Regions from separate parts of the Homo sapiens genome. Here region 1 is linked to region 2. The links come from fine-mapping of genetic effects on gene expression. A gene starts in region 2. The other region holds a variant in brackets. All regions are shown on one strand. Distances are between the middles of the regions.

What was found. PIP is the estimated chance that this variant, and not a neighbour inherited with it, causes the effect.
Region 1: its variant is the best candidate, but not a certain one, in a credible set for the expression of MYO3A in aorta (GTEx, PIP 0.72).

Annotation. Positions count from the first base shown.
Region 1 is chr10:25,896,516-25,901,899 of GRCh38, reverse strand. It overlaps LOC124902396 (a long non-coding RNA gene), which reads left to right and starts at 4,537. Exons shown (of 5, transcript XR_007062091.1): 1 at 4,537-4,779. It overlaps LOC124902397 (a long non-coding RNA gene), which reads right to left. Exons shown (of 2, transcript XR_007062092.1): 2 at 1-630. RefSeq lists an enhancer at 263-372. The variant C/T (reference allele first, on the strand shown) is at 2,374.
Region 2 is chr10:25,931,921-25,937,304 of GRCh38, reverse strand. MYO3A (myosin IIIA) reads right to left here and starts at 3,076. Exons shown (of 35, transcript NM_017433.5): 1 at 2,977-3,076; 2 at 1,475-1,561. It overlaps LOC101929073 (a long non-coding RNA gene), which reads left to right and starts at 3,595. Exons shown (of 4, transcript NR_120650.1): 1 at 3,595-3,751; 2 at 4,944-4,997.

The sequences.
Region 1 (5,384 bases), 35 kb after region 2:
CTTTATTGCAATCTGAGCCCTGCCAGATTGAGTAAGGAAGGGAGTGGGTAAGGAAGGGGGTTTCTTGTGGGTAAAGTACAGGTCATGGATAAGGAAAGGGTTCTTTTGTGGGTGAGTGAGGAAGGGGATAAGGAAGGGAGTCTTTTGTGGGAAAAGTACAGGTGATGGGGACCAGCTTCCAGTAGAACTGGTCTGTCCACCTCGGGTTGCCCAGGTTTCCCTGCACCAGCAGAGGTGTGGCCCAAGCAGGGCATGGGTCTCCAGGTGCCAGCTACTATCTCTGGGGGCTCCATGCACCATCTCTGAGCTTCACACCAAACTGCAGAGGAAGAAACTGAGGCCAACAGCCAAAGTCTGTGCTCTCACCTCTCCATCGCGCTGGTGCTCACCTTTAGGGTACTCCAGGGTTAAAGCTACATTTCAGCAAAGCCACAGAGATCAGGTGCAGAGTCACAGCTGAGGGTCTGTCCCTTGGGCAAAATGGTTGGTTTTCAGTCTTACTGTAATACTTTCTTTACCATGATGATTTCTATCATATATCCACCAATGTTTCACTTCCTCGGAGACGTCTTCTGCAGGGGTGAAGGGAAAGTGTCCCCTTTGCTCTTGGAAGGTTTGCTGAAAAATCAACTAACAAGAAGATTAATAAGAGAAAAGGCATGCAGATTTATTACTACCATGTACACAGGGAGAATCACAGAGTGACTGCCTAATGTCCCAGTGGGATACAGCCTCTTACATACCCTACTTCTTAGGGAAAAGTGTGGATCATTTTATGGAGATAGTAAATAATTTTTAGGGGAATTCAGTGGGCTTGAAGAACATACAATGGTTTAGGGCAAAGTCTGTTGGGCCCTCAGAGCGGATAAAGGTTGTGACAAAAATTTATCCAGGTTTGTTGTCAGACTTTAGTCTTCCTTCCTGTGATATGGGTTCAGCAAATGAAAACTTAAGAGAAAGGACCTGAGGTTATTGTTTTCTTCTCTGTTAGGTCTAGATTTTAGGTAGATAAGACAACTTTATCTGTGCTTTGGGATAGGGAGAGGATTTGGGGGTGTGGGGGTTGAGATGGATTGTTCTCCATTGTTCTTGGTGGGTCTGTCTGATCTTTAATTCAAAACACTCAGTATACCATATACCATATTTTCAGGTGAAGTTCCCTGTGCTCTTTCATTCTTTAATCAACAGTTTTTTCTTATTCCTCTTCATATCACTTTATGTTAATTGCTATTGCAATTTCAATGTTTTTTTTACAAATGAATGGTCATTATAGGAAATTGAGACATAATGCCAAAACAAAAATGAAAATGAATCACCTATATTCACACTACCAAGATATAACCTTGGTTGAAGTGCATATTTCCTTTTAGGTTGTAAAAGTATTTTCAGAATCACATTAATTTTTTAAATACTATTTTACTTTACTCTCATTTTAAAACAATAGAACACCAAGAGAATCTTCCCATGTTGTTACCTATTTGTCAAAACAAAAACACTTAAAAATATTTATAATATTCTAGGATATGGCTATGGCATAATAATTTCCCTGTTGCTTGACATTTAAATTTGTGCAAGGGAAGATTAAACTGTGGTAACAGATATACCAAAAATATATTATGATACAAACACAATATTTAGATGTACCTAACTAGCAGAAGGGAAAAGAGAATTTGGAACAGATACACTTGTTCTTTGGTTAAGGTTATTATTATTTTGAAACAATCTCAAACTTATAAAGAATTGCAAGAATGTTTTTATTCATGAAACATTTGAGACTAAGCTGCCTACAGGAGGCCTCGCCACCTCTGAATGCTTTAGTGCATCTCCTATAAACAAAGATATTCTTCTACATAATTACAATACCACCATGGAAAATTGGTGGAAGTTAACATGCTACATCATCGTTATCTAATCTTTGGACCCCATTCCAGTTTCACCAGTAGTCCCAACAATGTATTTTAGTAAAATGATTAATTGAGAATCGCATTACATATTATTGTCACGTCTCTTTGGTGTCCACAAATCTAGAGCAGTTCCTCAGTATTTCCTTGATTTTCACAGCCTTGGTACTTTTGAAGATTACACATCAATTATTTTTTGGGATGTCCTTCATGAGTTTCTTTGAGGTTTCCTCATGATTAAATTCAGGTTATGCACCTTTGTCAGGGATATCACAGAGGGCAGGCTCTAGTCTTCTCATCATCTCTTACCAGGCAGAACACTACCTAGATTTGTCCTATTACTAGTGATTGGCACATTAAACATTTGATTAAGGTGATATCTGTCAGGATCCTTCACTGTAAAGTTTATCTTTTCCCTTTTGTCTTTAGTGAGTATAGTATTGAGATGGAGGAGTGATGCCTCTCAGGGGCC[C/T]GCCAGCCCAACGCCCCATCCCCCACAAGCATGGAAAGAAAGGGAAATCTTGAGTTATTTCAAAGGAAATTCCAGGCACCTAGCTAGCCTGGAGAAGTAAATGAGCAATTTGATAAGCAAGAAGGTAATAGTAGCTTAAAACAACAGACAAGGAAGTTAGAGTCACAAGATGTTTGGTTTCCTATAGAAACAAAAGATAACAGCTTAACATATATCCCCGAGTTGTTTTTCAGAAACCCCATTTCCCATGAGATGGAAAATGCCATCCACTGGCACATAGAGGGAACCGAGGATTGAACTGTGACCACCTTTCTTTCTTCTAAATTTCTTCCTGAGGGGCCTGGAGGGGGTAAAACCCACGGGCCACAGCTAACATTATTTTCTGCTGACCTCAAATTTTTAGACAAATCTTTTTGTCCTTAACCAATCACAAGTCAGAAAATCTTTGAATCCACCCAGGACCTGTAGGCCCCCGCTTCAAAATGTCCGTTTTTCTTTTTTTTTAAGTCGAATCAATATATAACCTCCATGTATAGATTTATGAGTTTGCCTGGAACCCCTGCCTCACTGCCTTTAAAAACCCTTACATGTAACTCATTGGGGAGTTCAGGTCTTAAGCATGAGCGCCCTGCAATAAATGCCTCACTTTTCTCTTGCTGCAAATCCTGATATTAGCGTTTGGCTTTGTTTCATTGGGTGGGCAGACCTAAGTTTGGTTCAGTAACGGTGTTTTGAAGGAAAGGATTTTGAAGCTGTGTTATCCTACTGAAGCAGCATCATTCGTCTTTATCTGGGGTAAATACCCCAGGTTTGTCATCTCAGGCCAGGGAAATCGAGGACTCAGACACACAAGAAGTGAGTTTAAGAGAGGAGCCACTGCACTCCAGCCTGGGCAACAGAGCAAGATTCTGTCTCAAAAAAAAAAGAAAAAGAAAAAGAGTAGAGGTTTAATAGCTGAAAGAAAAACAGAATCGCTTGCGGGAGAGGGAAGGGTGGAGGTTTTATAGACTAGCTTGAGGAGGCTGTGTCTGATTTACACAGGGTCCAAAGATTGGTTGGACCAGATGTGCCATTTACATAGCACGTGAAGAAGCTGGCCACCCCACCCTAATCTTTTATTTTGCAGATCAGTTCTCTACCTGTCCAGGGCCATGTTGTCTGTTCCTTATTGTACACGTGGTTGACGAAAGAAAGGGAAGATGGAGCCGCCATGTTACACATGCCTGGCCCCCAGGTAGCCTTTCCCTGTTCGCACAGCTGCCAGCATTCACCTGTGCAAGCTTCGAGCTTGCTTATCTATGCTTGCAGCTCTATTTTGCAGGCTGCTTTTTTTTGATAGAAAAGAAATGATTTGGAGGCTGCTTTTTATTAAAAAGAAAGCAGTACTGTGGGCTGTCTTACCCTCACTATCTGCCTAAATAATTTCTTCTTAACTCCTATATCACTACATTATCCTACTTTCCCTCAAAATTTTAATTATTCATTATTAATTTATATCAATATAGACTCATGGATACCTAATTGATTCGATAGGGTATAATCTATTATTATCATTTATATTTATGTTCAAATAATCCCAGACTTGGCCAGTGGAAGTTCCTATATCATTTGGACGTATCTTCATATTCTTTAAGCTCTTATTTTCTGGCACAATGAGATGTTCTAGACCCATCTTGTACTTTCTTACCCCAGCCCTCGAATCTGCCATTTTTCCAAAGAGTCCTAGTTTCTTTTAGTGGATACTGGTTTATGTAAACCTGTCATCATTTAAACATTTATAGTGTCTTCCATTATGTTTATATCAGAAAGTCCTTGCCCCACTAAACTAATTATTTATTTCACATTTTCTTCTAGTTTTCTACCGGCTTCCTTTATTATGTTTAGTTCCTCATTTGGAATTTAATTGGGGCATGTTATAAGCTGAAGCTCTTGTTTATTGTTTCAAGTAATTAGCCAATTTCCCATATAATTTATGAAATAAATGCATCCCTTCCCTATGTACATTCTATTTTCAAATAAATTTCAGGGCTGTTCATTCTGTCTGCTGATTACTTTGCCACAGCCATGCAGTTTTCATTATTGTAGCATTCTATTACATCATAATGTCTGTTAGGGTAATTTCCCAACACAAAAAATCTTACATGTCAATGGACTAGTATTTTCTGCTGCCAGAACACTTGGAAGAATGGTCCAATGACCTAGGAAACTATTTGGAGTTTGAGGATTTTGTGTCATTTCCCAAATGTTGTTACGTATGAATCTGTTTCTTTTGCGTGCCCTGGATTTTTAAGAGGGAAGAATATATGTTGTACACAATATACTGGCAGGATACAGACATGCTGGTGGCTTCTTACTGATGAGACAGTTCATCAGAGCATCTGCAGGAGAGTGTAACTAACCAGGAAGGTAGATTTTGATTCTTCCATACAAAGAGAATCGCTCAGTTGTATTTCAACAACTTTCTTACCCCCTTGTTTCCTAATTATCAGGTGTCATTTGTGCAGAACAATTTGCACTTCAAAGCAAAGCTAGGGAACCACCCCAGACAGCATAGAATTAAAATCTAAATTAACCTAAGAATCAAACCACAAAAACATGAAAACAAAGCATTAGAAAATAAACAGGTTTTCATTTTCATACTATAAAATCCAGAAAATTTATTTCATTGTATCCTAATCTGGTTATCACTGTGCCTCATTTATTCCTCCTGGTGACTGAGATAACTGTGCTCATTTGGAGGAGTGATGTTTTAGTTGGGTGTATGGTAGGCAGCAATAAGGCAGCAAAGCAACTCTACACCTTTGTCTTTATTGGTATTCCACAGGCAGGGCTGCTAGTGTGTCCTTAATTTCTTGCTTCACTGATTTACAAATGGTAACTGTATAGCTGGGAATGAACACAGTGGTAGACTAAGGAGGGAAAAAAAAAGCCCCTAATCTCTTAAATGGCCAGCAGGCAAGTGTCCAGACGGCATTGTTATCTGAAACAGCAGATCGACAATGGAAACATTG
Region 2 (5,384 bases):
GAGTGAAGCAGGACTTGATGAAATAAAGGCAGAGGATGGCAGCAATGTGGCAAAGTGGAGAATGTATACCCCACCCAAAGTGGGCAACTCATCCTGGCTTCTGCCATGAGCAGTTGCAAGAGCTGTCTTGCCTGGTCCTCCATTTTTTTCAGGAGAAGCCAGGACTCCAGGAACTTACACAAAATTTACTAATTTGAAAATACCGGTAAGTAAATCAATTATTTTAAAGTACTGAGCTGACCCAAAGAAACATTTCTAAAGGCCAATTTCAGGCTTGAAACTATCGCATACGACTTCTATATGAGGTTCTGCATTTTTTATCAAGACATGATCTATAACTATAAACATATCGACATTGTCTAATCACCCTCAGATATCAGGAAAAATGGATATTAACAGTGGCTATTTTTTTTAACTGCTTACCATATTCCAGGTACCTACTGTGCTTAAAGTTTTACATGCAGTATGTCACTTAATTATCAGGAGAAGCCCTTTAGAAAAGCATTACTGTAACCCATATTTTCATAAAAGAAAACTGAAGATTAGAAAGTTTTTAAGGTCATAATGTTTAAGTTCATGGTAGAAATTACGTGTCCAATGATAGATGATTTTAGTTCAAAAGAGTAATGCTTCCCAACTTGAGGTTCCTAACTCCCAATGTGTCGCCAAAGTAGTAAGGGATCGTCTGTGTATCAATTTGAAAGCTTATCAGAAATCTTCTATTTACCCTCTAATGAATAACTGAATTTGTTTCCTATTACTAGGGGGAGGGAGTTTGTTTGTTAGGTACAATCATTCAAATTATCAATTCCCGGACAAAACTAATGAAAGGATCCTTGTTTATAAAAAGAAAAAGAAAACGCAGCTGGAAATAACACTGCAAAAATTATTTACATAATAAACATTTTACAAACTTTATATGATTTATATAAAAGAACTATACATTCTAAAGGGTATTTCAGCCTCCAAATATTTATTTATCAAAACCACTTGTAGCAAATAATGGACCTTCAAATATTTTGGATTTGACAGAGAAAGTTATTTTTCAAAGAATATATGCAAAAAAAAAATTAGGCTATAAAGATGCAGTCGAAAAAGGACAAGATGATGCTATCAAATTATGTGACATGACCAAATTTTAATATATGTATATATACACATATATATTAAGTTGATATTAAAGATTACAAAATTGAATCTTTTAGTTTGCATTTTCGTCCCCAAATAATAATTTTAAAGGACTAAGACAAATGAATGTAATTTTTCACATGCTAGACATCTCATCAATATATTCATAAAGCCCATGTTATCTTTGAAAGCTTATGCATCTGTAAATTTTCCCATTTTAAAATAATTATCTTTTATAATGTAATAAAAATCAATATGGCACGAATAACATGCACCCAATTTATCTGTCAAAACTTGGCACTTAGGTTCTGGCAAACCCAGAACACTTGTCAATTTTATCACCTACCGTTAGCAAAGCTTGAAAATAACGCATAACAATGCTCAGACGCCAAAACTTTGAATACTGTGTCCAGGCTGCACTGGGGCCCTGGGCCTGTAACCCAAAACAAAAAGATCATGGCTTTATGGGAGTAAACATTCAGGATCTGGGGAAAATAATCAGAAGTTGAACTTAGAAACTTCTAGGTAGAAGGGCAAGACAAATAGTTTATTCCTCAGTAACTAAGTTTTCGCACTTTTACACAATGAACAAGGAACTTAAAGCCCCTCATTTCATATGCTGGCATTAAACAACTCTCAAGCTACCAGATCCGTCTGAATTATAAAAATGCTTAAGAAGGTTTAAGTGCACCTGTACAATTAGTTAATTCACCAAGAAAACTAGAAACAACCAGAAATGAAGATTCTTTTGAGTTTTCAAAAACGCTTAGTGTGTAGGGTTCAGTGGCATTACAACAGTCATTTCAAGGCTTATGGCCAATTTCCATTCTAACAATAATAAAATTTTTTTTCTGGAAGGGGGATAGTAGCAAGGTGCGAGTTAGCAACTACTTGGAGAACAGAACAGAGCTGTTGGTGAGCAGACTTGAAAGGACATCCTTTCCTGGTAGGTTTCTCTATTTCTCAATAATGATCATACTTTTCTTGTCTGCTCTTTCTCCTTAAAATTAAAACTCCTTTACGGATGCATTTGGGGTTGCAGGGAGCCCAGCTCCACCGACCTGCTTGTTCTGAGAAATCACCCGGAACGCAGTTCCCTCAGGGACGGGCCGACCCAGCGCCACCTGTGGGCGGCGCCGCAAAGCCCGCGCGCGCCACAGGTCTCCGAGGCGACACCCGCCAGACTCGGCGCCTCCTCCCTCCAGTCTCCCTGCAGGGCCCCCTCAGTTCTCGCCCCTCGTTACTCTTCGAGGTCCTCCCCTTACGTTTCCTTCCCAAGTTCACCCCTAAAGATCTTCCTTCACCCCTTACGCCACCCTTCCCGTTCCCTCCTCCTGTTTCCACTTCACGTTCACCCCTCCCGTTCCCTCCTCAAGTTCATTCCTCACGTTCCCTCCTCGAGATCCCCCCTCACTATCCCCTCGCGTTCCCTCCTCGGGTTCACCCACAAGATCTTCCCTCAAGTCCACCCCTCAGGTTCACCCTTCCCGTTCCCTCCTCCTGGCTCCCCCTCGAGTTCACCCCCGCCCCCGTTTCCCCCTCAAGTTCATCCCTCTCCTCCCCTCGAGCTCTCCCATCCAGCTCGTTCAAGCCTCACATTCCCCCTCTTGGTTTCCCGCTCTACTTCTCCCCTCGAGTCCCCTCTCTCACCCCAGGCCCCGACAAACACACAGGTCCTCCGGATCTGACCTGGGCGGGCGGGCGGTCGCGGCAGCCTCGCGCTCAGAGAGCCCCGGGCCCGCCCTGCAAGCCCCGGGGTCCAAGGAAGCGGGGCCGTTTCCAGCGCCGCGCGGGCGCCGCTACCCACCGCCGCCCCAAGCCAGTCCCCTGCGCTGTCCCGACACGTACCTGGGCGGGAAGCCGGGCGCCTCCTTATTTCTTTACGGGGGCGCTGGCTACGGGCGCTCCCTCGAGGGGCGGGCAGGGGCAGCCGAGCAGGGGAAGAACTGGGCCGCCTGTAGAGGGCGGGCCGAAGGTCGGCGGGAGGATCTGACCTGGGTCAACCGAGCCGAAGGGGCCCCTTATCCCGGCTCGCGGGGAATATTCTTCCTCTCGCCGCTCTCTCCACTGCCCGCAGGTGGAGGCCGCGCCATCCGCGCCATCCACATCCTCGCAGGGCCCTTGGCTGGCTGCCGAGGGGCTTCCCGGGACTCCGGCCGCGCTTCCTTGGCCCGGAGCCCGGCGAGAAGGGAGTGGGGCCCCTGGATCCTGGAGCCCTCATGGACTGGCCCAGTGCCTGGAGCAAATTCTGCTCCCGGCCCCGCGTAGTATCTTCCTCCCAGGAAATTCCCCACACTACGAGGGTCTCGGACCCGGAAAATGTAATGGGTTTCAGGTCCAAGAGGGATAGTGAGTGGCTAATGAGATCGCTCCCAGGGTCCAGTTCCCTTTTGCAGACTGCTAAGGAGTTTGGGGCTGGGGCTGAAGTTAAAGGCAAGAACTTCTACCCTCGGGAGGCAGCCCGTTAGTCACCAACCCTCTACTTGGTCCTTTGCAATCCTTTCCAGACCTTCTGTGGTCTCCTGTCACACAGGGCTCACCTGGGGGGACCCTGATGGCCAGATTCTCTTGAACAGTCTCTAGGGACATATTGGGTATTGCTATACCTTCATCCATTGAACAGGTGAGAACTACAACCAAAACATCCTTTGATTCTGTTAATTATCTCAATGGGTCTGTCGTTCATGTTATCTAAATGAGAATTATAGAAGAGACCAAAGAGAGGTCATCTAATCCTAATCAATGCATATCTTAAGGAAAAAATGTGATGTTAAAAATCTGTTTCAAAAGGTCATTCAGTATATTCAAGACCCTTCCTCTTAAAGTAGCTTTAAAATTTAGAAATTGGGCCGGGCGCGGTGGCTCACGCCTGTAATCCCAGCACTTTGGGAGGCCGAGGCGGCCGGATCACAAGGTCAGGAGATCGAGACCATCCTGGCTAACACAGTGAAACCCCGTCTCTACTAAAAAATACAAAAAAATTAGCCGGGCATGGTGGCAGGCCCCTGTAGTCCCAGCTACTTGGGAGGCTGAGGCAGGTGAATGGCGTGAACCCAGAAGGCAGAGTTTGCAGTGACGGAGCCGAGATCACGTCACTGCACTCCAGCCTGGGCGATAGAGCGAGACTCCGTCTCGAAAAAAAAAAAAAAAAAAATTAGAAATTGAATAGTGGACTTGTAATAGGGATTATATTGAATCAAAAGCCTAACATATATGAACAGCTTCAAATCAAGAAGTTATCTCATCAAAAACAGATCACAGCAAATATATTATTCAACATAATTATGGCCATTTGGACATACCTGGGAGATTTTAAGAATTAGAGCAACTGAGTGCTCACATGCAAAATAAAGTCACAATCTCAATAGAGACAAACAACACCCAATTAAAATACAATAGAAAAATAGATCCCATTCACAATAGAAGCATGAAAGAACATGAAATAACTAAGAATGATAAAAAATGAGAAATATAGGAGAAAAGTGGGAAAAAATTTAAAAATGCAGGATTGTTGACAGACTATTTATAATTGGAAAGACACTGGAATCCTAAGTTAGAAGACAAGATGTTAAACACATAATTACTACCTCCCAAATTAAGAGACAAATATATTCTAGAATTCATATGAAAACTACAGAAGCTAGAAGAGCTAAGTCCAGTGGTTCTCAGAGTGTGGTCTAGGGGAAATTTGTTGGGGGTCAGGGGGCGGTCTCTGAAACCATTTCGGGAGGTTCACAGGACCAAAATTACTTTAATAATAAGACTTTTTTCCACTCCTTTTTCTCTCCCATTTTTTAAATGAATTTATGATGAAGTTTTCCAGTGGCTCCATAATATGTGATATCACAACAGATTGAATGCAGAAACAGGTAACGTCTTCTGTTATGCCAGACATTAAAGAAATGTGCAAGAATATAAAATAATGCCATTCTTACCATTAAACTTTTTTGGTTTTGGAAAATACAGGTATTTTTCACTTAAAAATATGCTATTCATGTTAACATGTAATGAGCTTAGTAGTGAAATATATTTTTAAAATTTCTCAGTTTTAATTGCTATAACATAAAAGTTCTTTGGAGTCCTCAAAACTTTTTAAGAGTGTAAATAAAGGAAGGTTCTAAGACAAAAAAAATTGAGAACTTTTTTTTTTTTTTTTCTTTGAGACGGAGTCAGTCTCACTCTGTTGCCAGTCTGGAGTGCAGTAACACGATCTCGGCTCACTGCAACCTCCGCCTCCCAGGTTCAAGTGATTCTCC